2 separate regions of the Homo sapiens genome follow, and region 1 is linked to region 2. The links come from fine-mapping of genetic effects on gene expression. A gene starts in region 2. The other region holds a variant in brackets. All regions are shown on one strand. Distances are between the middles of the regions.

Evidence for each region. PIP is the estimated chance that this variant, and not a neighbour inherited with it, causes the effect.
Region 1: its variant is the best candidate, but not a certain one, in a credible set for the expression of COA5 in anterior cingulate cortex (GTEx, PIP 0.51).

The regions. Positions count from the first base shown.
Region 1 is chr2:98,530,000-98,537,999 of GRCh38, reverse strand. It overlaps INPP4A (inositol polyphosphate-4-phosphatase type I A), which reads right to left. Exons shown (of 25, transcript NM_001134225.2): 5 at 4,505-4,623; 6 at 2,155-2,271; 7 at 1,792-1,871; 8 at 26-137. Among named protein-coding and RNA genes, the nearest start is that of COA5, 75 kb to the left of the region's middle. The variant T/C (reference allele first, on the strand shown) is at 3,029.
Region 2 is chr2:98,600,873-98,616,793 of GRCh38, reverse strand. It overlaps COA5 (cytochrome c oxidase assembly factor 5), which reads left to right and starts at 8,282. Exons shown (of 3, transcript NM_001008215.3): 1 at 8,282-8,487; 2 at 12,603-12,686. The coding sequence starts at 8,389. UNC50 (unc-50 inner nuclear membrane RNA binding protein) reads right to left here and starts at 8,205. Exons shown (of 6, transcript NM_014044.7): 1 at 8,068-8,205; 2 at 6,755-7,038; 3 at 5,899-6,019; 4 at 448-587; 5 at 261-362. The coding sequence starts at 7,034. RefSeq lists a silencer at 7,978-8,077 and enhancers at 8,141-9,130, 15,141-15,310.

The DNA of each region.
Region 1 (8,000 bases), 75 kb after region 2:
AGAGGAGGAAAGTGGTGTAACTCACCCTCCCATTGACAGTGTCCACAGACCGGGTCACAGGGGGCCGTTGGTCTGACTTCTCCTCCATCTGCCAGCCAATCACGGTGATGTTACCTACACGGTCACTCTCTGCAGACCTGTGATGCACAACATGCTTTAATGAGTGGTGCTGCAACTGTGCTTCTTTTCTGCTGAAATACAAAGCCCTAGCCGTACTGGGTCATCAGGGTCCTGGGGGCAGCAGGGCCGAGCTGACTGACCAGTCAGTCAGCATTCACTGTGCACACAGGGCTCCTCTCAGGCGAGACAGACAAGGAAACCATGGGGCACAGTGGAGGGCTGTGTCTGAACGGACACGCACCACAGGGAAGTGTGGACGTGCTGGTGAAGTCAGAGGGGGCCTCCCTGAGGAGGAGCCAATGCTGTTCCTGAGCTGCTGCCAGTGCCTGTGCTCACCCCTGCCCAGAGGGTGAGGGGGACACGTGTCAGAGTGAGGACTACAGAACACCTTGTTCTGGCCCTGGGCCCTTTTCTGTTCCTTCCCACCCCACCTTGAGGCTTATATTAGCCCAAGGCCTAAGCCTGGACTCCAAGTAATGGAATCCAGCCAGGGCTTCCTGAAGCCCTTGAATCCTGATATGACACAGCTGATGCTACCCCAGCCTCAGTCAGCTTTACCCTGACATCCCGAAGGGTGGCTGATGGTGGCCTGGGCTCATCTGATTCATCCAGGGAACCTGGGGACACCCTGGAACTTCAGGCTTTCTATTTACAAGGTCTCACTTAATCAGGTTCTAAATTTTTGTCTGGTCCCATCTACTGACCATTTCCTTTGTGATTTCCTTGCCCTGTCCTCGTGCCTGTGAAGTCCTTTCCTGCTCTATCTGTTCAATCATCAGCCGCCTTTAGCTCCTTTAAAAAGAATGATGTCTATTTTGTACATTTAACTCTAACCCAACTAGAGTTAACTCTGACACATGACGTAACTAAATATTTTTCTCAAAGCCCTTTCCCTTACATGATCCCTCTCATTTTACCAAAGATGGTTCCTTTTTCCTGAATCAAGTTCTCTAAACAAACTAAGGGCTGCTGCAGGGCTCTGATCCTGTCCACTGATTAGACAGCCAATGCCTGCAATACTGTCTTTACTTATAGTAGCTTCAGAATGTCTCAATACTGCAGGGACTTAATTGTTTGTCAAATTTTCCTTGCTACTCTAGATTACTTTCCCAGATCACAGTTCTCCAATTTTTACCTTTTTCTGAAAAAAGACCACCATGTCAGGGTTTTGGTGGGAAGTGCCCCTAAAATGATTTGGAAGGACTGACATCCTGATGTCTTTCATCTTTCCATCCTGGGAGACAGTGGGCGTTTCCCTTTCATTCACTCATTCCTTCCATAAATATTTATTGAGCACCAGACACATTCTAGGTGTCTGGGAAATAGCAGTGAAGCAAAGCAGACAAAACTCCCTGCTCTATGGGAGATTATATTCCACTGGGGAGGGGCTAAATAATGGAGAAACACACTTAGTATTACTAGATATGTATCTAGGCCTTCCTTTAGGGCTTGGTACAGCTGTGCTCATATCTCCTATGGATGCTAAAAGTTTCCATTCTCTGATAGGCTAAGTAATTTGTTTCGCCTCAATAGACAACACAGTGTCCCCACGCTGACTGGCTTCTGGGAAGGGAAGGGTGCTCTCTCAGTATAAGAAGTGGGTCCTTTCCCCATCTGTCCCTGGACCTCATGATTCCAGATCCTTTCAAGGGAATAAAACTGAATACCAACCTTAGTGTTAAATGCAACCTATGATGCCTGTCCTGGAGCAGATCTTTGACAATGAACGTTCCAGAGCCCAGTAAATACATCTGAGGAAGAGAAGGAAGAGAGGCAGCATTGGTGCGCTTGCTTTGCTTCTGATGCAATTACCATGGCCCCAGAGAGTCCAGCTGACTGCTTCCCACAACACCTCTTACCCTTATGTCAGAAGCCCAATGGGAAAGCTTAACAATTCGCAAAGACAAATGCATTTAGACATGAGTTAACTTGTGAGCCAGTAGTGAAGTCAATCTGTGTTCATCTCTCATTCAAACGATTATATAATTTTTTCAAAGGGAAGAAAATCCCACGAACTACAACACATTACTTAACTGTTCCCTGAGATCTATCTTTGACATCATACACGGAGAGTTTGACTTGTGTCATCTGATTGATAAGAGAGTCTTGAAAGAAGGCAATACTGCTTAGAAATATAGGATTGTTGGTTCCCTAGAACAGAAAAGGAAATAATCAGAACACAGGGTTGGATTTTTAAAATGTAATTGCTTTTGAAATACACCAACATTTTCAGAATGAGAAACTAACATTCTCACTGCCTTGAATCAACACAAATGCTAAAGGCGGCTTAAATAAATACATAAAACAAACAAACAAAAAAACTCTGCTTTTTAAAAGAGAAAAAAGAAGTCTGACATAGACCATTACAGATCCACATACAATAAATCAGCCCATTACACAAGCTGTGCCTGAGGACTCATTTCATGGGTTTCACACTCAACAGGAGGAATTTTTAAAAACTGAAACAAGTTGGATGTCCACATGCATTCTTAGTTTTATAACTTAAAGTGTAATGTGTATGTAAACCTACTACTTTGAGTTATTCCTTTAAGAGGTACAAATAAGCAGATGAAAGAGAGAAAATGAATGGCTTAAGTGGTTTATTATGTATTTCTAGAAGCCTGTGTTTGGAATAATTAAAGCCTGACTTTTCAAAAGCTATCCTTTTTTTAGGATCAGCTACTAGTTTTTTGATCATAGGTGACTATTTCCTGGCAGCCTGGCCATGTCCTCCAAAGCCCCGTAATACCATACTCTCTCAGGCACCAGGTAATTATCACAGCCACCATTCCCTGGGCCTCTGGCTCCTTTTTCTCTCTGGAGATCCAGATCCAGGTGGTCAAGCTGACTGGACAGCTCCACCTGGGTGGGCTGCTGGGGCCTCAACCAACTCATCTCTCCCTCCACC[T/C]GCCCTTGGCTAAGGCCACCTCTGACTCCCTTTCCAAGCAGGCTAAAAGCCCGGGCATTCACTTTGGTGCCTTCTTCTCTGTTGTTCTCAACCATCCAGTGATCATGAACTCCCCTTGCAAGGTCCACCTTCAAAGTCTCTGTCATACGCTCCTTTCTTTCCACTCCCTCCAACTCTCACTCCCCCAAATGCCTGTCCTATACAAGTTAGGACATCTGGTCAGGTGACTCCCCTGCACAGAAGCCTACACTGGCTCACTACCATCTGCTGATAAACTCCACGGCCTTCAAGGCTTTCTTTCCTTGCTCTCCTACTTGTGCCTTTCACACACTGACCAGGATACAGTTAGACCCCAAACCTGCATGATCCTTCCCTGTGGTCACACATTTGCATAGCCACAACAGAACTTTGGCGTGCTCTTCATGTGGAGTCCCCCGACTGGCTACCTGGGCATCACTTGGGAGCTTGTAAGAAATGCAGTCTTGGGCCCTACCCCAGACATACTGAAGTAGAATTTCATGAAGCCCCACCCTAGGAAGCCTGCTCTGACTCTCACAGCCAGATAGGATCCCAGCCTCCTGGTGCTCTCCTTACCTTCCTACTCCAATACTTCCCATACTCTGCTGTGCACACGGGTAGCCATATTCATTTCTGCCTCCCCACCCACCAGCTGGTCAATTCCTCAGGGCAGGGACTGTGCCCTGGTGGGCTCTGTATCATCCACAGTGCCTGGCACTATGCTAGATGTGTAGGTAGCACTCGACAACTGCTTAGAAAGCAGAATTGTTGACGTGAACTTGGAAATAAGTTTCTAAGAGACTGAAAGGGTGGGCTAGCTTCCAAAATGCACAACTGGTGAAGAAGAAGAAATGCAGTTTAAGTTTGATAATTCTTCACTTTACAAATAAAACTCTGCAGAATCTCATGCCACCAACTCCTACACTTAGTGTTATGTAATGTGCTTGATGATCTAAAAGGATCATCCATAAATGTTTATCCACAAATGTTTATCATGTAACTTAGTGGGAAAAGTTAACATGTGACACAAAACTCAAAAGGCTGTAAAAACAAAAACCAACAAAAATAGGGGTATGTCTGGACAAGAGGGTGGTAAATAGTTAATACTCTTCTAAGCTTTGATTAATGAGCACCACTCTTGCAAAGTAGCAGCCAATTGGAGGTGACAAGAAGGAATTAGGTCTTACCTCTTACAAGGCAATGAAGCTTACAGGATCATTGTTCAAAAACAAGCTGCCAACAGTTAATCAATAACTGTAAAGGATATGGCAATATAAATGCCACCCAGATGAGTAAATGTGATGAAAAATATCAATGTACTGAAAACCCATGGGAAAATAGCAACAACTCACGTAAATACAGCTTCAGCTACAGATGCACAAGTAACTGAACATCAGGACAAGAGACACCACTAGAGCATGTCCCACAGCCCCTCAGAGAGAGACCACCAGCACCCACCTCAATGATCTCCGTCTGTGCATGCTTCGTCCAGAATGCCTGAGGAGGGGTGGTGACACTCACCGCAACAAAACTATTTGGCTTTCGATCTAGCGATGGAGTATGCAGCTCACTGCAAGCTACAGAATCAACACGGGAAAGAAATGAATCCTTTAAAACCAGACTCTGATTAGTTTTCTGTTCCAAACACATTCAAAGAAAGCACAAAGAGTAAATGACATTCAAAGAGATGAGACGATCACATCGTCAGTTGTCACAGGGAAGTGATTTTTTAAATTTGAAACAATCTCTTTTCACGCCCCCTCCCCGCCACCCTCCAAGACAGCAATGTCATAACTTCAGTGAAAGGCTGCGCTGACGGGGGCTTCCCATGTCCATGGAGTGGAACACAAAGCCAGAAATCTCATATAGGTCCAACCCTTCAAGTCCGACCTCGGTAACTATTCCAACTCTAACCAATTGAGTGAAGGAGCCACAGAGTCTACGAAATCTAAGACAGAGCTACCCATGCTTGCATCCTGTGACTGCTGTGGCTGACTCTGAGCATATGGTGCTCCACGTGTCTTGGCAGGTGGATGGATGGATGCTGGAAGAAAATTAGAATTCTATGGCAAAGTAAACAAAGCTCTTTTTTTTTTCTTAAGTGAGCCATTGTTCATTTACAGTCAATGATAAACCACATATATGACAATGGTCTCACAGATTATAATGGAGCTGAAAAATTCCTATTGCCTAGGGATGTCATAGCCATCCTAACGTCCCAGAACAAACACATTACCTTTTCTATGTTTAGACACACAAATACTTACCATTGTGTTACAATTGCCTATAATATTTAGTACAGTAGCTGTCCAGGTTGGTAGCCTAGGAATAACAGGCTATACATGTAGCCTAGGTGCCTAGGAAGCTGTGCCATCTGGGATCCTGTTAGTACACTCTATCATGTTCACACAAGGATGAAATCACCTAATGACACATTTGACAGAACGTAGCCCCACCATTAAATGACACACGACTATACTTAATGCCACCAAACTGTATACTTAAAAATGGTTAAAATAATAAATTTTATGTACATTTTATCGCAATTTTAAAATAAAATAGAAAAAAGTATTAACTCCAATTTAAAAATATGTTATTGTGTCCACAACAGGTGAGACAAATGCACAGGAAATTCAGAGAGAGGAGGAGTGATGGGATGAAGGAAGACACTAACAAAAATGAAAGAAAGAACAGGGAGAAAAAAGGAGAGATTAAAAGACTGAAAAATACAAAGAGGGAAGGAGGAGATATGAATTTGGAAGGGTGGGGGAGAGCAATACCTTGGCATGTTTTGAGGAGAGTTTACCTGGGAAGATATCTTTGTCATGTTCATTCAGAGTAAGTTACTGGCTATCTCCATCCTTTGAAAGGACCTGTGGTGATCTAACTAACCACTGTTCACAGCTCGATCTGCTCTTTTGGGTTCTAATTACACTTTTTCTGACATTAAGATTGCCATATCAGGTCTCTCCTTTGTTAGCATACACATTTGTGTGTGTGTTTTTCTATAGTTGCTATTCATGCAGCTATAACCCAGATGTTTACCCCAAATCTTATGTCTTTGAATTTTCAATGCTTTCTCTATTGGTGAACGTCCATCTGGAATCATCAGCCTTCTACTTAGGAACATCTCTTAGCACTGTTTATACTGTAAGTGTGGTGCTGACATTCTTTCAGCTTTTAAGGTTTGAAAATGTCTTTATTCCACCTTACTTCTTGAAGGAAATGTTCTCTAAGTAGTCATTTTCTCTAAGCCCTTTAAATATATTGTGCCTAGGCCTCTGTTTTTTCTGTTATGAAGTCAGCGGTCGGTCTAGTTGTTGCTACTTTAAGTGTTGTGTTTTCTGGTAGCTTTTATAATTTTCCCACTGAGTATGGCTTTCAGTAGTTTTATTATGATGTGCCTAGGTACATTTGTTTTTATTTGTTCTGCGAATTGTTGTATTACTTTGGGAGAAATGCTCAACTATAAATATTGCTTCTGACCCTTTTCTGTGTTCCTTCTTAAAGATACAAAATAAATGTAACATTAGACCTCTCACTATGCTGTTTTTACTCTCCTCTGATTTTTTTTTCCATTATTTTTATTGCTCTGGCTTCATTTTGTAAATTTGCTTCTTGAAATTTTTCTTTTAATTCTAGAATATCTATTTGGTTCTTTTCATGGTTTCTAGTTCTCTGAAAATGTTCAATAATGTCCTTATTCTTCTTTACCTAGTGTTATGACTGAATGTTTGTGTCCCCCTAAAGTTTCTTTAAGTAGGTCTGTCCTCTGACACAAACCCCAAAATTTATGTGTTGAAATCTTATATCCCAATGTGATGGTATTAGGGGTGGGGCCTTTCAGAGGTGATTAAGTCATGAGGGTAGAGTCTTCATGAATGGGATTAGTGCCTTTAAAAGAAGAGACACAAGAGCTTGCTTCCTCTGCTCTGCTCTCTGCCATGTGAGAACACAACAAGACGACGTCCATCTGCAAACCAGGAAGCTGGCCCCCATCAGACAACAGATATCCTAGCATCTTTATCTTGCACTTCTCAGGTTCCAGAACTGTGAGCAATAAATTTCTATTTTTTAAGTCACCCAGTCTACAATATTCTGCTATAGCAGCCCCTATTAACTAAGACATATAGTCAATAACAGTTATTTTAGTGTCTGTCTCTTAACTCTAATATATACAGCCCCTTTGGATCTATTTCTATGTTTATTGTTTCTGTTCATATTTCTTATCTCCTCATGTTTCTGAGAATTCATGATTTTATGCTGAACACTATATTTTAAGAATTGCTTGTAGAAATTATTTGAGGTCTAGGATGGTGCTTTCTCCAGACAAGATTTGTAACTACTTCTGCAAGGTTCCAAGGAGCACTAGCACTCTAAAATATTTTCATTTACTTTCAGAAACTTAATGAACCTGTAGTCCCTATGAACACCTGCTTCTGGTTCCTTTACTCTAGAGGTTTAGATTTAGCCTTTTGGATTCTAGATCAAAGTGAGAGGGGTTTCAACAAGTATCCTTCCCCTAACGGACCCTAGAAAGCAATCCCTGCCACTTCTCACTGAGACACTGTCTAAAGCACTAAGTGTCTTTAGACACTTAGTGTCTAATCCATCTAATCCTTTCTCTTGGCCTTTCTCTTGGGAACCACTGTAAGCCCTCAAGGGAATAAGTGAGCCTCTGCTCTCAGATTCTTTATTGTCCTATCAGTTCTCTGGTAGCATGGACCAGGTAGTTCAGATTTTTTTTTTTTTTTCACTTTTTCTAGTTGTCCTTATGGTAGATTTGATGTTTGTTATTTATCTAGAAAAAGATTTTCTTTCTCCTTAGAATTTGTTAGTCTCATAAGGAGATGCCTGGCAGCTGGAATATTCTTGAGTCTTAAGTCCATTCTTCCCTCTGGAAAGAATTCTTCTGTTGCTTCTGGCTTGCTGCTACTCCTCTTTCCAGCTCTCT
Region 2 (15,921 bases):
TAAAATCTGTTATATACCAGCTAGGCCATTTTCTAGCTGCATGACCATGGGTAAGTTGCTTAATCTCTCTGCCTCAGTTTCCTCATTTGAAAACAGAAACAAACCTGTGTAATTGTCATGAAGATTAAATGAGATAATGCACATAAAATACTTAGGATAGTGCCTGTAAGTGTTCCATAAAAGCAGCTGTTTGTACTACTGTTACAACTTTCCCCCTCTTGCTATGTTCTCAACCAAAAACATTTAAAAAAATTACTTACCACTGTATCCCAGGAAAGTTACATAGATATAATAGCCAACTGCAACCAACCATAAGGTATTTCCAACTAAATATCCAATAAATGTGTCTGTCAGGATAACATCTGCCAGAAGAGACGCAGACCATGAGTCCCTTTACCAATGCATGCAATGAAGACTTGGATAATACTCTAATTAACTGCTACTTACGGTTGATGAAAAAAAGCTGGATAAAATGCAAAATGACCAGGAGTGGATAAAAAGCATTGAGATGCACATCAAAAGCATAGCCCCATTCCACATCATAGTCTCTGCTCTGTCGTTTCACTAAATACTTGTTAGAGATGAACCTAAGAGCAAAATTAAAATTTCTTTCATAATAAAATGAATTCTGTAAATGTTTACTGACGACTTTCTATGCGGCAGACATTCTAAATTCTGGAGATATACCAGTAAACAAAACAGACAAAAATCCCTGCCTTCCATCTAGGAAGGAAGGCTGACAATGATACACCTATGTCAGATGGTATTATGGAAAGAGAGAAAGCAGCAGAGAAATGTGGAGAATACAAACTTGAGATGCAATTGTACATATGAGGGTCATAAAGTAACATTTGGGTAAAGACCCAAGGATAGTGATGGTGCCTGGCAGGCCTGAGGAATGGTGAAAAGACCAGTGTCTGAAAGAAAAGGAGCAAGAAATGAAGCCAGAAAAGAAACAGGGTTGGGCCCAACATCAAGTCACACAGGCTCCATGTCTTACGAAGCCTGTGGCCGTTTTACAATCTTTGGCTTTTATTCCTGGTGACGTGAGAAGCCACTGTGGAGTTCTGAGAAAAGTATTTGACTTAAATGCCTTGACAGAGCCTCCCTGGTGGCGGATCTGAGAACAGACTCCAGAGACAAGACTGGCAGCAGAGACCAGTTAGAAGGCTACTGCAAGGAAGAGATGAGCAGAGGGGCTGGTGGCAGTGGAGGTGCTAAGATGTGGCACACACGATACTCTGAAGGTAGAGCTCCTGACATTATTGGATTGGAGTATGAGAAAAAAATACTCAAGGATGACTGAGAGATTTCTGCCTTGAACAAATGGAAGATGGAGCTGCCTTTAATTGAGGTGGGGCTGGCTGTGGGAAGAGTGGTTTTGAGGTGGGAAGGAGTGTGCGGAAGTTTGAATTTGGACCTGTTATGTTGAAGATGCCAACTAGTATGGAGTAAGAAGTTGTATACAATGTCTAGAGTTTAGAAGACAAGTCCAAACTGGAAATATAAACTCATCAGTGTGTAGATGATATTAATATTTAAAGCCACGGGCCTGAATGATGTCACCAAAAAAATGAATGTGGATAATGAACAGGCCCAAGGCCCAAGACCTGGGTCAACCCCCTATTAAAAGGAGGATGAAATAGTAAGAAGCAGTTAGGAAGAGTGACGCATCCAGCCATAAGAACAATTATTCAAGTGTATGTCACTGTTCTACAACATGGCCTACTAGTTTTTCAGTTCAATGATGAATAAAAAGTAAAATATCCAAGTAACAGAAAAGTAAGATCTTCAAAGAACAAAACTTGTATTATAAACATATATTGGAAATTCAATGTATTTTTTAATGTATTATTTCATTTCATCTCAAGGGTACAATTAAGAATACGCTATTCCGTCACTGGGGATAAAAATGGAAAATAAACAGAGGTACAATACTAATGTTAACAGTCCCTGCATTTCGTTATCTGAAAATGCCAAAACAATACTGAACAAACTAGAGCTTACCAAGACAGTTTCCTTTTTAGCCAAGAATGTGTGCCATTCAAATTTTATGGAATCAGTATGTAGCTCGCTCCCCAAGAGCGCCCTTTCTGTAGACGTTCTCTGCTGCCCCTATTCTCCCGCTTATCCCAAATGGGCGCTTTTCAAGCTTCTGGCCTCAGTGAGAGTCTTTCCTCTGAAAGACAGATGTGCCTTCCGAGAGCACTCCAAGGCACTGTGGTTTTCACCTCCCAGCTCCATATTAACGCCAGTCAGAGGCTCATCATGGCCCAGACTCTTGCCTCTAGGTCTAGAGTCATCAACCTCAGTGTCTACTGACCTTCTTTTCACTCTTCAGGAAGCTCCCTGAACTCAACAGGCCAGCAAGGGCTGCTTCATCTGCATCTGCTGCTTCCTCAGTCATCTAAGCCAAAATCTTACAGGTCATCCCAAAGGAGCCTCCCACCCACTCCCTCTTCCTGATCCCCCCTCATACCTTGTTATCTCAGGAAGCTCTCGAATCCATCTCTCCTCTCTATTCCTATCACCACCATACTATCTGGGCCTCCTCTACTCCTACGCAGACCTCTGCAAGTGTATCCAGCCTTGCCCACTCACTACTCCAACTTTTGCCTCCTCCACTGCCATGGAAAAGATAGTGTGAGTTTGACATTATTTCCTTACTTTAAAGCCTCAAAGCTCCCCACCTCCTTTTGCCCCCAACCCACACATGCAGTCTATGAGATAAAGTCCAATTTTTTTCCTGAATGGCATGAAGGCCAATTTCTCTAGTCACATCTCTTCCCCAGTGACTCGGTGTCACCCTATGCTCCCAGACCTAGTGTGCTGTTCACACCTCTATGCCATTGCACTTGCAATTCCCAGCACCAGGAGTCAACTATTCCCCATCTCCACAAACCACCACCTTATGCTGGCTTCTGTAGCTCCTCTGTGATGGTCATCATTACATGTAGTCATTTCTCTTTCTAGTTCCTCACACAACATAGGTTCTCAAAAATACACTGAATCCCTTTCTATTTAATTCAAACTATGATACAGACTCACATGAAATGTGCTAAACTCCAGGCTGATTTGGTCCCCTTCTGTGCCTGATATTGTTTGGCTGTGTCCCCAAAATCTCATCTTGAACAGCAATCCCCAGAATCCCCACGTGTCAAGGGTGGGGCCAGATGGACGTAATTTCCCCCATGCTGTTCTCGTGATAGTCAGTGAGTCTCACAAGATCTGATGGTTTTATAAGCATTTGGCATTTCCCCCACTTGTACTCACTCCATCCCGCCACCCTGTGAGGAAGGTGCCTGCTTCTCCTTTGCCTTCTGCCATGATTATAAGTTTCCTGAGGCCTACCTAGCAATGCAGAACTGTGAGTCAATTAAACCTTTTTCCTTTATAAATTACCCAGTCTCAGATATTTCTTTATAGCAGCATTGAGAACAGACTAAGACAGTGGCCTCCAGAATTACTGCATTCAGGGCAGAATGCTTGTTATGAATGAAACTATTCCTTTGAAAGTCTTATTTATTGAAATTTTAAAACACACCATTTGTTTTTCATGAATTTCTTGGTAATGAATACGTGACTTACATTAGTATTAATTCTAGGCCAGATTTTAGAATTTTATATTAACAGTGGACAGCATTTATTGGCTAACTAGCACATACAAAAGCTCTGCTGTACTAGTCAGAAGTTACAAAGGAAAATACAGGCATATGTCATTTTACCACACTGCACTGTACTGCGCTTCACAGAAACTGTAGTTTTTAAATTTTTACGTATTGAAGGTTTGTGGCAACTGTGTCCAGCAAGTCTGCCTGTGCCATTTTTCCAGCAGCATATGCCCACTTCATGTCTCTGTGTCAGCATTTTTAAGCAATAAAGCATTTTAAATTAGTCTGTACATTGTTTTTTAGAGCCATAGTGCTATTGTACACTTAAAAGACTACAGTACAGTGTAAATATGATTTTAATATGCACTGGGAACCAACACATCTGTGTGACTCAGTTTATTGTGATATTTGCTTTACTGCAGTATCTGGAATGGAACTAGCATATCTGAACTATGCCTGTAAAAGGGTGGTATTGGCTGGGCGCGGTGGCTCACGCCTGTAATCCCAGCACTTTGGGAGGCTGAGGCGGGAGGATCACCTGAGGTCAGGAGTTTGAGACCAGCCTGGCCAAATGGCAAAACCCTGTCTCTACTAAAAGTATGAAAATTAGCCAAGTGTGGTGGTGTGTGCCTGTAATCCCAGCTACTCAGAAGGCTGAGGCAGGAGATTCGCTTGAACCCGGGAGGCGGAGGTTGCAGTGAGCTGAGATCACACCATTGCACTCCAGCCTGGGTGACAGAGTGGGACTTCGTCTCAAAGAAAAAAAAAAAAAGGCTGGTATCAGAAGTTATAGTTGCAGAGTTTTGCTTAAAATATTAGTAACTACCAAATATTGAACACTTAACTGTGTCAGGTAATTTTCATAACATAATTATCTCAAAAATTGGACAGAATAGGTAATTAACTAGATTTTGTAAAAGAAGAGACTGGGACTAAGAGTTTCACAGATAACTAAGTTGGCATTTGAACCCAGGTCTCTCTGCAACTAAAATGTTCTCCACAATGACCACCATGTCTACCCAACCACTGGTCCTCTACTGAGATCGCTAGCCACATCCCCTGCCCTTCATCCAGCATGCCAACCACACAGGAGGACTTTACCAAACACCAGATTTATCCTCAGTACACTGCTGTTGCTAAATCAACCAAAGTCAGACTGAGAACCCTTCTGATAAAGCCCGTGTGTGTGTGTGGCGGTGGGGGGGCGGGGGGGGCGGAGGGTGTGTGTGTATGAGAGAAAGAGAGAGAATTTTATTCTCAGTAGGAAGGCATGAGAAGTTTAAAAAAAAAATCCTTCTTTTTCAAGTATACTTCATTTAATGCAAAGATTCAAAGTAAGACTCCACAAAATAACCCTTTAGATCTAAATGGATTTAAACACAATGAATATCAAGAAGTGGTCTCTATTGACAAATGCAGAAAACCATGCTATCATCCAGACAACTTAAGCAGAACTGGCTAAATCTGTAATATTTTTGCAAAACCAGGCATTTTGTTAGTATGCAGAAAATAAATCTCGGGACCCCAAAATCACTAAGCCAAAGGGAAAAGTCAAGCTGGTAACTGTGTCAGGCAAACTTGCCTCCTATTTTATTCCTAAGATAGCTTATCTTTACAGGTGTGGGACAGAAAGTCCTCCTTCTACTCACCTGAGACAAGTGTTTATCTGATTGCTTCCTCTGCCCCATTGTTTATGTAAAAATGCAGACTCACTGAGCCAGATTAAGGCATAAATGACTATTCCTGTACCTGCCTCTCACAAGTAAATTGTGTATTCAGTGAAAGGCAGATCAAAGACTCAAAAGAATGCAACCATTTGTCTCTTATCTAACTGTAACCTGCCTTTCCCCACTTTCTGGATTAAAACAATGTACATTTTACACATATTGACTGATGTCTCAAGTCTCCCTAAAATGTATAAGAGCAAGCTGTGCCCCGACCACCTTGGGCACATGTCATCAGGACCTCCTAAGGCTGTGTCACAGGCATGTCCTTAACTTTGGCAAACTAAACTTTCTAAATTGAGACCGATCTCAGATATTTTGGGTTCAAAACATAATTATTTCAATTATTTGCTACATTTGACAATATTATAAACCAGCCTTTATAGTATTTTCTGATATAGGTGGCAACACAGGAGGGAAAATTGTAATAATCTTGGCAGTCAAAATTGATCATTTAGTAACTCTACCTGGGTTTCAATTTCCATCTGCTGCTATTGTACCTCTGAAGCAAACAAATGGAGATGCTACAGCAGTATCTGAAAAACCAAAGTTATGGTACTTACCACATTAAAGTTGCTATCAGAAGACCAACGCCTACACAATCTATGAGTACAACCCAAAGGAGAAGCTTTATTGTCTCAAAGAATCCCATGTCCAGCACAAAGCCAAATCCTATAGTGGACACTGAAAGAAAGATTCACAAGATTCATTTAGGGACTCTGCTAGGTTCTGGAAATACAGGACACATCCCTTGCCCTCCAGATGCCCAGGCTAGTGGGAGAGACAGGTCTTTAAACAAAACTCCCAAGATGTGTGAACACTACCTTGGGACACAGCGTGGCCACTGAGAGAGTTGAAGTTTCCTGAGGTGGGCCCTTGCCAGGCTGATTCACCACGGTGGCCTCAGTATTTAGAACGCCAGTGTAGAGAAGGCACTAACATAGTTTAAGTCCAGTTAAGGTGCAAAACACCCTATAAACTTCAATATCTTACCCACTTCAACACCCTACAGGTAAATGAGACCCTTGCATTATGGAATTGGAGAACTTCAGTTTCTCAGGTTCCCATCAATACCTTTACAATTCTCACTGTGGATTTGCCTGTGAAATGCAATTTCCAGTTTCATATTCCTATTCACAGTCAGCTGACATTTGGGTACCGATTCAAGTACTTAAAAAGATATGGAGTGAATCTTGTCCCCTGCTTTTCAATGTCCTAGGGTAACAGTTTACTCTGGCATCTGCTTGGGACCTGTAGAACCAAGACTACAACTTTCTTTCCTGTGAGATTTTTTGAGGCTTCAGTAAAAAGGAGAAATAGTTTCCAATATTTCCAGATTCTGACCCACAACACATTTATAACAAAAAATCTAATCAGAAACACTCAGCGTTCAATTCTATCTCAGATAAACACACTTACCACAGAGCCAGATACTTAACAGGACCAAGAAAGCAGGGTCATCTCTGGCCCACTGGTCCTTCGTCTGTTTTCGATAATGAAAATTTCTGTAAACTCTCTGTGGGGATGTGAACAGGTAGAGCATCTGCCAGGCAGCAAATTCAAAGTCCATTTGCCGAAAGCGGAAAAGCCTTCTCAGATATTTGTAGCGTTTCGCTCCGGCTGTGTGTCTTGCCGCATCCCTGGAATTCAAGACTCCGTTCCCCTGCACTAAGGAATTCACTGAAGTACTCGGTAACATCTTCCTAGATGGAAGAAAAACATTTCTTTTACACGTATTCTGAAGAAACATTTGGCTACCGACACTCCTCTTCTGAGTTATTTGGCAGGGAGGTCACTTTCCATGTTCTTCCCAACCCTAGAGAAAGGCCAGGAGTCAAAAGCAAATGCAGTTAGTTCTGAGGCGGGTCTTGGGGCTTGGGAACCGCAGACTGCAACCTCAGGCAAGGGCAACAGCCCACCCTTCTGAATCACCTAATAACACTTATCCAGGGGCAGCTACCATTACAGAGACAGGGATGATGTGACTGCCCCATGACTCCGAGGATAGTGATAGAGCCAAGATTGGAAATCTGACTCGAAATTCCGTGCTCTTAACCACCAAGCTTTTAAGAAAATGCCTAAGAAAGCAGTTTCAGCCGGTTAGAACAGTGTTACTGAAGAGGTCAAATAAATGGCCTATTCACACAGATCCATCAGCGCACTGCCAGCAAGCTTCTCGGTCACTAGAATGAGATTAAAAAACCAAGAAAAACTCCGATCCCTAGTGTTTTACATCCGGAATAGTTCAGCAGAGGGAGCGGTAGCGTCGGAGTCCAATCCAACCGGTCCGAGCTCCGGGGAACGCCGGCCACTGCCCGGCTGCCCGTCTCCCCTCCACTTCGCAGGCCCCCCAGACGCCGGCAGGGTCTGGCCGAGCCCAGCTGCTCCCTCCCTGCCCGGGGCCGCGGGTACGGCTGCCAGATTTAGCAAATAAAAACACAGAATACCCAGCTCCATTTGGATTTCAGACAGGCCACGAATAAGGTTTTAGTATGCCTACATCCCACGCAACATTTCGGACATGCTTATACTAAATGCTCTTTCTTTATCTACGATGCAAATGTAACTGGGCGTCCTTTCATTTTAGCCGCAACTCTATCGCCGGCCGAGGGGCCGGACGCCGACATGGTCACTGCCAGGCCGCAGCGACGTCAGGCCGCAAGCTGTCGGGATTAAATGGCCCCCGGCGCGAGCCCGGGCCGCGGGAGGGCAGAGTGGTCCTCAGGCCTCACCTGGAGTCCTGCTACAGCCTCGACCCACGTCCGAACCAGCCCACCACCTCCTCCCAGCAGCCGACCCCAGCCGCCACCGGGCGGGCTTCCCTTCCCTCAACGGAGCCGGCCCTTGGGGCGCGCCGCGTCACGGGAACCGACTTCCGCCGCGGACGCGCCACCTCTCGGCCCCCGTAGTCCTCGGCCCTACCGCCGCGGCCCGCCGGAAGTTGTTGCCGCTGGCTTCCGGTCCCCTGAGACTGGGGCCTCGCTCGCTCCCGACCCGGTTGCAAGTGTTGCGGTGGGAGAAAGTCGCGTCCGCATCGGAGGGGAAGCGCCGTCATGCCTAAGTATTATGAGGACAAGCCGCAGGGCGGCGCGTGCGCGGGCCTGAAGGAGGACCTGGGCGCGTGTCTGCTGCAGTCGGACTGTGTGGTCCAGGTAGCGCGGCCGGGCGCTCCCGGTGGTGACGACCCCTGTCCCAGGCAGGCCTGGCTCGGCGGAGGGCAGCGGGTCGCCCGCGGCGGCGGTTGGAGTTAACCATCCCGGGCGTAGGTCACAGCTCGGGCTCACTGAACGTGCGCAGATCCACTGAGCTGTCGGAGCCCCAGTTCCCTGTGGGGTTAAATCGGAGATAACGATAAACGCACCCTGTCGGGTTTTTGTAAAGGTTAACCCATTTCAGTTCACGAAGCCTTTATTGAATGCTAGCACTCTACTAGGCTTTGGAGACATAAAGGAGAATAAGCCAGGTTTCTTGCCTGCCTAGAAATGATAATCTGTAGAATTAATGATTCCAGAGAGTTGCGTAAACCTGGTACACTGCCCTGGCCAGTAGTGTCTCCTGCCTGTTCAGTTGTGACAATGTGTGCTCAGTTTGACTTGTGTTGATGTGAATTTGTTTCTGAGTTACAGTTCTCTGCATTCTTGGATGTTAAGTTGTAAAAATAAGGCAACTCCATATTTTCACGATTTCGTATCTTGCTTCCCCTACACTCTTCCTTCACTCCCCGGCTACAGACACAGGTCTCCTCAGCACCCTCTTGGAATGCACTGAAACATGTAGTGAGGTTCACAGTGGACCTGAGTTCTGGATTAGAGCTCAAGTAAAGCACAAGTGCCTTTTCCAATTGCAGAGGCCCGACGAGAGGGCATTCAATTGTGTGCAATTGTCTTTGCATTGGGGGATGTAGTTTCAGAAAGTTGCTGTTATTTCAGAGAAAAGATTACCCCCAAATGGACATCCACTGTAAGACTGTACCAGTGTTTCTACCGAGTCACAATTTGTTTGGTTCACTGATTTTAGCAGTCAGCCATTCTCGCCTCCCAATGTCTAGTAAAACTTGAGTTATTATAAATTTAAGAGATTATCTCGCCCAACTTCCTTATATAAATGAGGAAACTGAAGTACCGTTGTTTTCAGGCTCCCCTGTCCAGGGCTGTGTCCCTTCTGCCCCTTACTCACTGGTGCTGCCGTTCAGCCAGCTCCTGGTAAATGCCTCTTAAGTGGCAGGCATGGTACCTGACACTGGTGATAACGAAGATGAATCAGTAACAGTCACTACCCATGTAAGCTTGGTGTCATGGGAGAAATAGACATCTAAGGGTCTAAATTCCTGCCATAAGACTGTAAGCATTTATTAAACATGTGTTTAATGACTAGATCTTGAGGAGAAAAATGCGTTAGCCCAAGGGAGAGCGTCTGATTTTGCTTCAGAATTTGGAATCTTCTGAGATGACATTTGAGCTGAGTCTTAAAAGTTGAGTAGTAGTTTATCAAGTAAAGGAGTGGGAACTGTTGTGGTTGTGGGGAAAATCTGAAAGAACAGCAAGTGCAGAGGCAGGGAGATGTGGGAGGGCGCAGAGGAGCTAGTGTCCTGCCATAGGGGAATGCGACAGAAGGCCTGAGGGGAAGGTTGCAGCCAGGTGTGAAGGCCTGTATGTGTGTCAGAGTGAGGAGACTGGATTTTATCCAGACGTTCAGCATCGGAAGGCCATGTTGATGAGTAGTCAAGGGAAGAAAGTACACTGAGTAGGACTGAGGAAAGAAACTCCAAGTGGAGGACAATAGCAGCAGCACAGAGAATTCCAAGCTGGCTTTCTGCAGCGGTTGATACAGCAAACATGTACGGAGCGCCAGGCTCCAGTTCAGGGAACAAATACTGATGAATGGAACATGGTCTCTCCAGTATAGAAAGCGGAGCTGTTTGGCTAGAATGCTGTAGGCAGAGATTATGGTTGGGACAGCTGGTACAGACTTTGCTTTTCCCGCCATTGAATATGTGGCCTTACCAGTGCTCAGTTTGGTCAGCCAGAAAACGTGATGCTTATAAGCAGTTCTTTAGATGGAAGTTCGTATACAGTTTGTGTTAAATTCATTCTGAATGCTGACTTCAGCTGGATTGTAAAAGGGCAATAGTGAGGAGGTTTGCAGGTCCAGAACAATCTCCTACAATCTGTTGGCAGCTACTGCCCACTGCTCCTCACTGGGGACTCTGAAAGACCAAGGAAAGCTCTGCTGAGGTCTGTGCTTGCTCTGTGTGGCAACCTTAATTATGATGGAAATTTTTGATTTCTTAAGTTCTTGAATAAAAAGGTTAATCTGATCCTATGGCAGGTTGGTGCTGTAGTCTCTTCTTGCCAGTCTTTAACCCACCTGAAACCTGCAGCACCTCGCTCTAGGGAGGAATTCAACATAAACATGTATTTAGTTCTAGGTGCTGCTTTGGGAGACTGTCAAGGAGTTAGAGGGCCTCAGAGAAACTCAGGGTAATGGTAAGGATGTAAATTCCAGTGGGGCTGGAGGAAAGCAGGGAAAAAGCAGATTCAAAAGGCATCTCTTGAAGAGACTTCTTAGGATTTAATGACTCCTGGATGATCAGGACAATGAAACTCTGCCAGAGGAACTTCACTCATCATAGGGTATCTTCGTCTCCACTAACAGCTTCCAGATCCACTGACTCTTCATCAGAATCACCTAGAAGTGGTGTGGCTTTTTAAAAGTACAGATTCCACTGCTGCCCTCACCCTACCCCCAATAAGTTAAAAGTTTCTTTCCTAGGTTGGTTTTGGGCACAGCCATGTTTGAGAGCACTGACTGATCTTGACCTCAGAAGGCAAAAAAGCTTGGGAGTGTATTAGTTAGAATATAGATTCAAGTGCATGTTACAGAGACCCAGAATAATAGTGGCTTAAACGAGATAGAGAACTTTCTCTTTTGTCCTTGTGCCTATAATCAGGGCCTAGTCATTTCCCTCAGTCTTCCATGAACGCAGACACTGTTGATCTTGTGACTCTGTGCTGTGAAAATAGGAAAATATAGCAAGTAGGGTGTTACTCTCATATTCATGGTCCAAGACTGGTTTGCTTCCACATCATCAGGCCCGGCAACCTTATGGAGTGAAGTGAGGAAAGGGGCAAGCCTCTTTAAGGACCAACCCAGAAGTTCTACACCTGTTTCCCACACATTCCAGTGGCTAGAACTTAGTCACAGGACCACAGCTAGATGCAAGGGCGTCTAGGAGATCTCACCCAGCCATATGCTGGATAAAAAGGAAGAGCAGACAGCTAGCAGTCTGTTATTTGGGGTGGAGTGGATAACGAATGACTGTCTCTTAGCTTTAGTGTATCTAGATGGATCTTTACCCCAGGCAGTTGACAATATAGGTTGAAAGCTTTTGAAAAAGGTAGCATCTTAGATACAGTTTGAAGAGGCATCAGCTTATAAACTATAGTTATAACCTTTTATATGGTTAGTCTTCTTTTGTCTGCCTCCACGTCGTTCATGTGGGCAACACATCCCACCAGCAGAATTGCAGAGTTTGGAGAGGAAGGAAACCTGCTACTCTTATCCACTTTTGAGAGTCACTGAGGTAGATGACATTTGATATCTAGGACCCAGGCAGACATACAGACTGGAAGGTGGCCAAGACTCCTGGGGAACAGGAATACCACAGACATAGTACCCTGTAGCTTTTCATAGGAAAAACTGGCAGAGCGTGCCTGGCACTTGCAACATAAAGGTTCTGGGGAGTGGCTGCAGTGATGCGGCTGTAGAGTCAAAATCTGCTTGAGGGAAAATCCCTGATTATGCAGAGCAGATGAGCTTTGGGTTATATTTTTTCTGGTGCATGAATGGGCCACATGTTTCTATTTAAGTAGTATTCCAGCCTGCCTTGTTAATATCTTTGTGAAGTGTTTCGTGCCAACACTAAAAATATTCTGATTTTAGGGTACCCAGTTCACACATTTCACCCATAAGGAAATGAAGATAACCCTTTCTAGATTTTTATATAAACAGTTTAAGGAAAAGTATCCAATAGAAACCAGTGTTTTCAAGAATTCAACAGTGTCCTTAAAGTTCCCAAGTTACTTTACAATTTTTTTTTCATTCTTTAGGCACCAATAGCCCAAATGAATTAAGAACTATTTCCTACATAACTTTCTATTTTCCTCCTTTAACACTTTTAAAAAGGACTATTTTCAGAAGGACAATTATTTTGTACTTTGTGAGAAAATTTCCAAGGTGTTTATATTGTTTTATGTGTCTGTCATAGGAAGGAAAATCACCTCGGCAGTGTTTGAAGGAAGGATACTGCAACTCTTTGAAGTACGCATTTTTTGAGTGTAAAAGATCAGTGGTAAGTGGTTAAAGATTTTTAAAAGCCTATGCTAAAAATTAGCTATAGGGAGGTTAAATATATGAATGACTTAATAGTTATAGGTAAGTTGCAGTGATATGGTTTGGAAAAAATTACATAGATAATATTTCTTCCTCCAGTGAGTTAACGTTAGGTAGCGTTCATAAAAACCCACAGCTCATTGTTATGTTCTTCTGTCACCGTGCTAACTACAGCTGCTGAACTTCATGCATTTCTGAAAGTGTGAGAATGAAGTCTCGGCAGGTATATACGGGTAAAAGTTGATGTTGGCCACTCGAGTTCAGATCAGTTGGCAATTGTATACAAACATATAATGTGGAGCTCCAAGGTGTATACATTTGTGCCTTATGTGACTAAGAGAAAATGTCAGTATCTGTGTTTGAATTTTGGAGGGATGGATTGTAGAAATAGGGCCTAAAAAGAGATTACAAATCTCTGGGGTTCATTCTAACATTCTTTGATTTGGAAGATGTATGGAGATCTTTGGAATGGAAACTGAGACCCTTTTCTTGGAGAAATGTATAAAACCAAAAATATGAGCATCCCATTAAAGGAAGAAAGCACTTGGACTTGAGGATGTTTTTTTTTTGTTTTTTGTTTTTTGTTTGAGACGGAGTCTCACTTTGTCACCAGGCTGGAGTGCAGTGGCGCAATCTCAGATCACTGCAACCTCTGCCTCCTGGGTTCAAGAGATTCTCCTGCCTCAGCCTCCTGAGTAGCTGGGATTACAGGCGCCTGCCACTGTGCCCAGCTAATTTTTGTATTTTTTTAGTAGAGATGGGATTTCACCATGTTGGCCAGGCTGGTCTTGAACTCCTGACCTCAGGTGATCTGCCTGCCTCGGCTTCCCAAAGTGCTGGGATTACAGGAGTGAGCCACCACACCTGGCCTTGAGCATGCTTTTGTTTGCTTAGGAACTACACTGCAAATCCCTTCCTTTTTGTTAACAAAAGAAATGGAGGGTACTGATACTTACGACCTGCAAGTGGTTGTAAACAAAGAACTTGGAGCATGTTTGCCAGCTAATCAGATCCAGGGAGGGTGTAAAGTTAGATTAAATTTGGCCCTGCTCTGTTTACTTTCTTAAGTGACATCTTTTCCTGTCATTCAGTGTGAATAGAGGAGGATTTTCTTGCCTTCTCTCACATAGATTTGTTACCCATGTAAAATGCAAACCTTTAACTTTGTCAAGAATTTCAAAGCGTGTGCAGTAAACCCTCTGAAATTCTCTACCTAAAGCTCAGTCTTCGATCTCCAAAGAACGAAGTCAGATTTTTTTTTATTTTTACAATTTATCTACTTTCAGCAGAAATTTTTAACAATCTTACATAAAAAGTAAAATGATCTTACCATTTCTAAATATCAGTACAAGGCAGAGTTTCACATATACTTTGACACTGAGAAGAGCACCTTAGGGACCCTTTTTTTTTTTTTTTTTGAGATGGAGTCTCGCTCTGTTGCCCGGGCTGGAGTGCAGTAGTGTGATCTTGGCTCGCTGCAACCTCTGCGTCCTGGGTTCAAGTGATTCTCGTGCTTCAGCCTCCCGAGTAGCTGGGACTACAGGCAGCTGCCACCATGCCCAGCTAAGTTTTATATTTTTAGTAGAGATGGGGTTTCGCCATGTTGGCCAGGCTGGTCTCAAACTCCTGATCCACCCACCTCTCCCTCCCAGAGTGCTGGGATTACAGGCATGAGCCATTAACACCCGACCAGCTTAGGGACCTTTTTATAATCTTTCTCCAAGACCATGTTTTACTGTTAGTCCTCCAAAATGAGTAGAGTCATATCGCTGTTAATGCAACTTGTTATACATGCTTGGCAAAAAACCCAGAAATATAAACATTTAAATTGTGTGGGTAATTTTGTATGCTATTAAAGTGAGTGTGCATCTTATTGAAGGTGAGATGGGAAGTTTGAATCTGCTGTTCTCTCATAGTATGAGCAGTTCACCATCCTGATTCCTGTGTTTTAAAATTTTTTTTTAAAAGTATGGCTTTAGCTACTTTACCTAGTGCTCAGTGAATAAATGGCTGTCTGTCCACACTTTGTTGGACTAACTGGCAGGGTCTGTCTCTAAAATAATTCCTTCCTATAGAATAGTGGTCTGCAACATTTTTGGCACCAGGGACCAATTCCATGGAAGAAGACAATCTTTCCACGGACGGGGAAGGGGGCAGGGGATGGTTTTGGGATGAAACTGTTCCACTTCAGGTCATCAGGCATTAGATTCTCATAAGGAACGTACCACCTAGATCCCTTGAATGTGCAGTTCACAGTAGGGTTCATGCTCCTGAGACTCTAATGCTGCTGATCTGAATGTAATGCCCCTGATCTGACAGGAGGTGGAGCTCAGGCCCTAACACTCCCTCTCCTGCTGCTGACCACCTGTGTGGCCTGCTTCCTGCCAGGCCATGGACTGGTACAGGTCTATGGCCTGGAGGTTAGGGACCCCCAATATAGAATTTTTGGGGAGTGACATTGACTATGCAAGTTTGCCTTACAAACTGACTTGAGAACCCTCTGCTCTACCTACTACCCTTAAGAAATGACTGCACTGTGAGGCTTCAGTCAAAGAACGTGCTGCCAGTTTGTGAGGTGGTAATTCACCTGAAGGATTTTTAATCCCAAAGTAATGTGTTACTTAACATTTTTCAGGGCTCATCAGTTGCAATTTAAAGATTTCAAATATATTTGAATATTAACCTAAACCTAGAAAGTTAAGTTTTTTAGAAGAAGAATGTATATTGAGTATAGTCCAAATAAACAGTTAAATGTAATTTGGATTCTTGATTGCCCTTAAGCGGAACTTCTATTTTTAATGCCATCTTTCTTATTTATTTATTTATTTATTTATTTATTTATTGCCCAGGCTGGAGTGCAGTGGTGCGATCTTGGCTCACTGCAACCTCCACCTCCCAGGTTCGAGCAATTCTCCCGCCTCAGCCTCCTGAGTAGCTGGGATTACAGATGCATGCCACCACACCCAGCTAATTTTTGTGTTTTTTAGTAGAGATGGGGTTTCACCACGTTGGCCAGGCTGCTCTCAAACTCTTGACCTTGTGATCCGCCCACCTCATCATCCCAAAGTGCTGGGATTACAGGCATGAGCCACTGTGCCCTGCCAATGCCATCTTTGTTACTGTGGTTTTTCTTGGTAGTTCTGATGTCATCACCTTTTTGATTTTGCTAATAACTGGTTTATTTCTCTCATGCG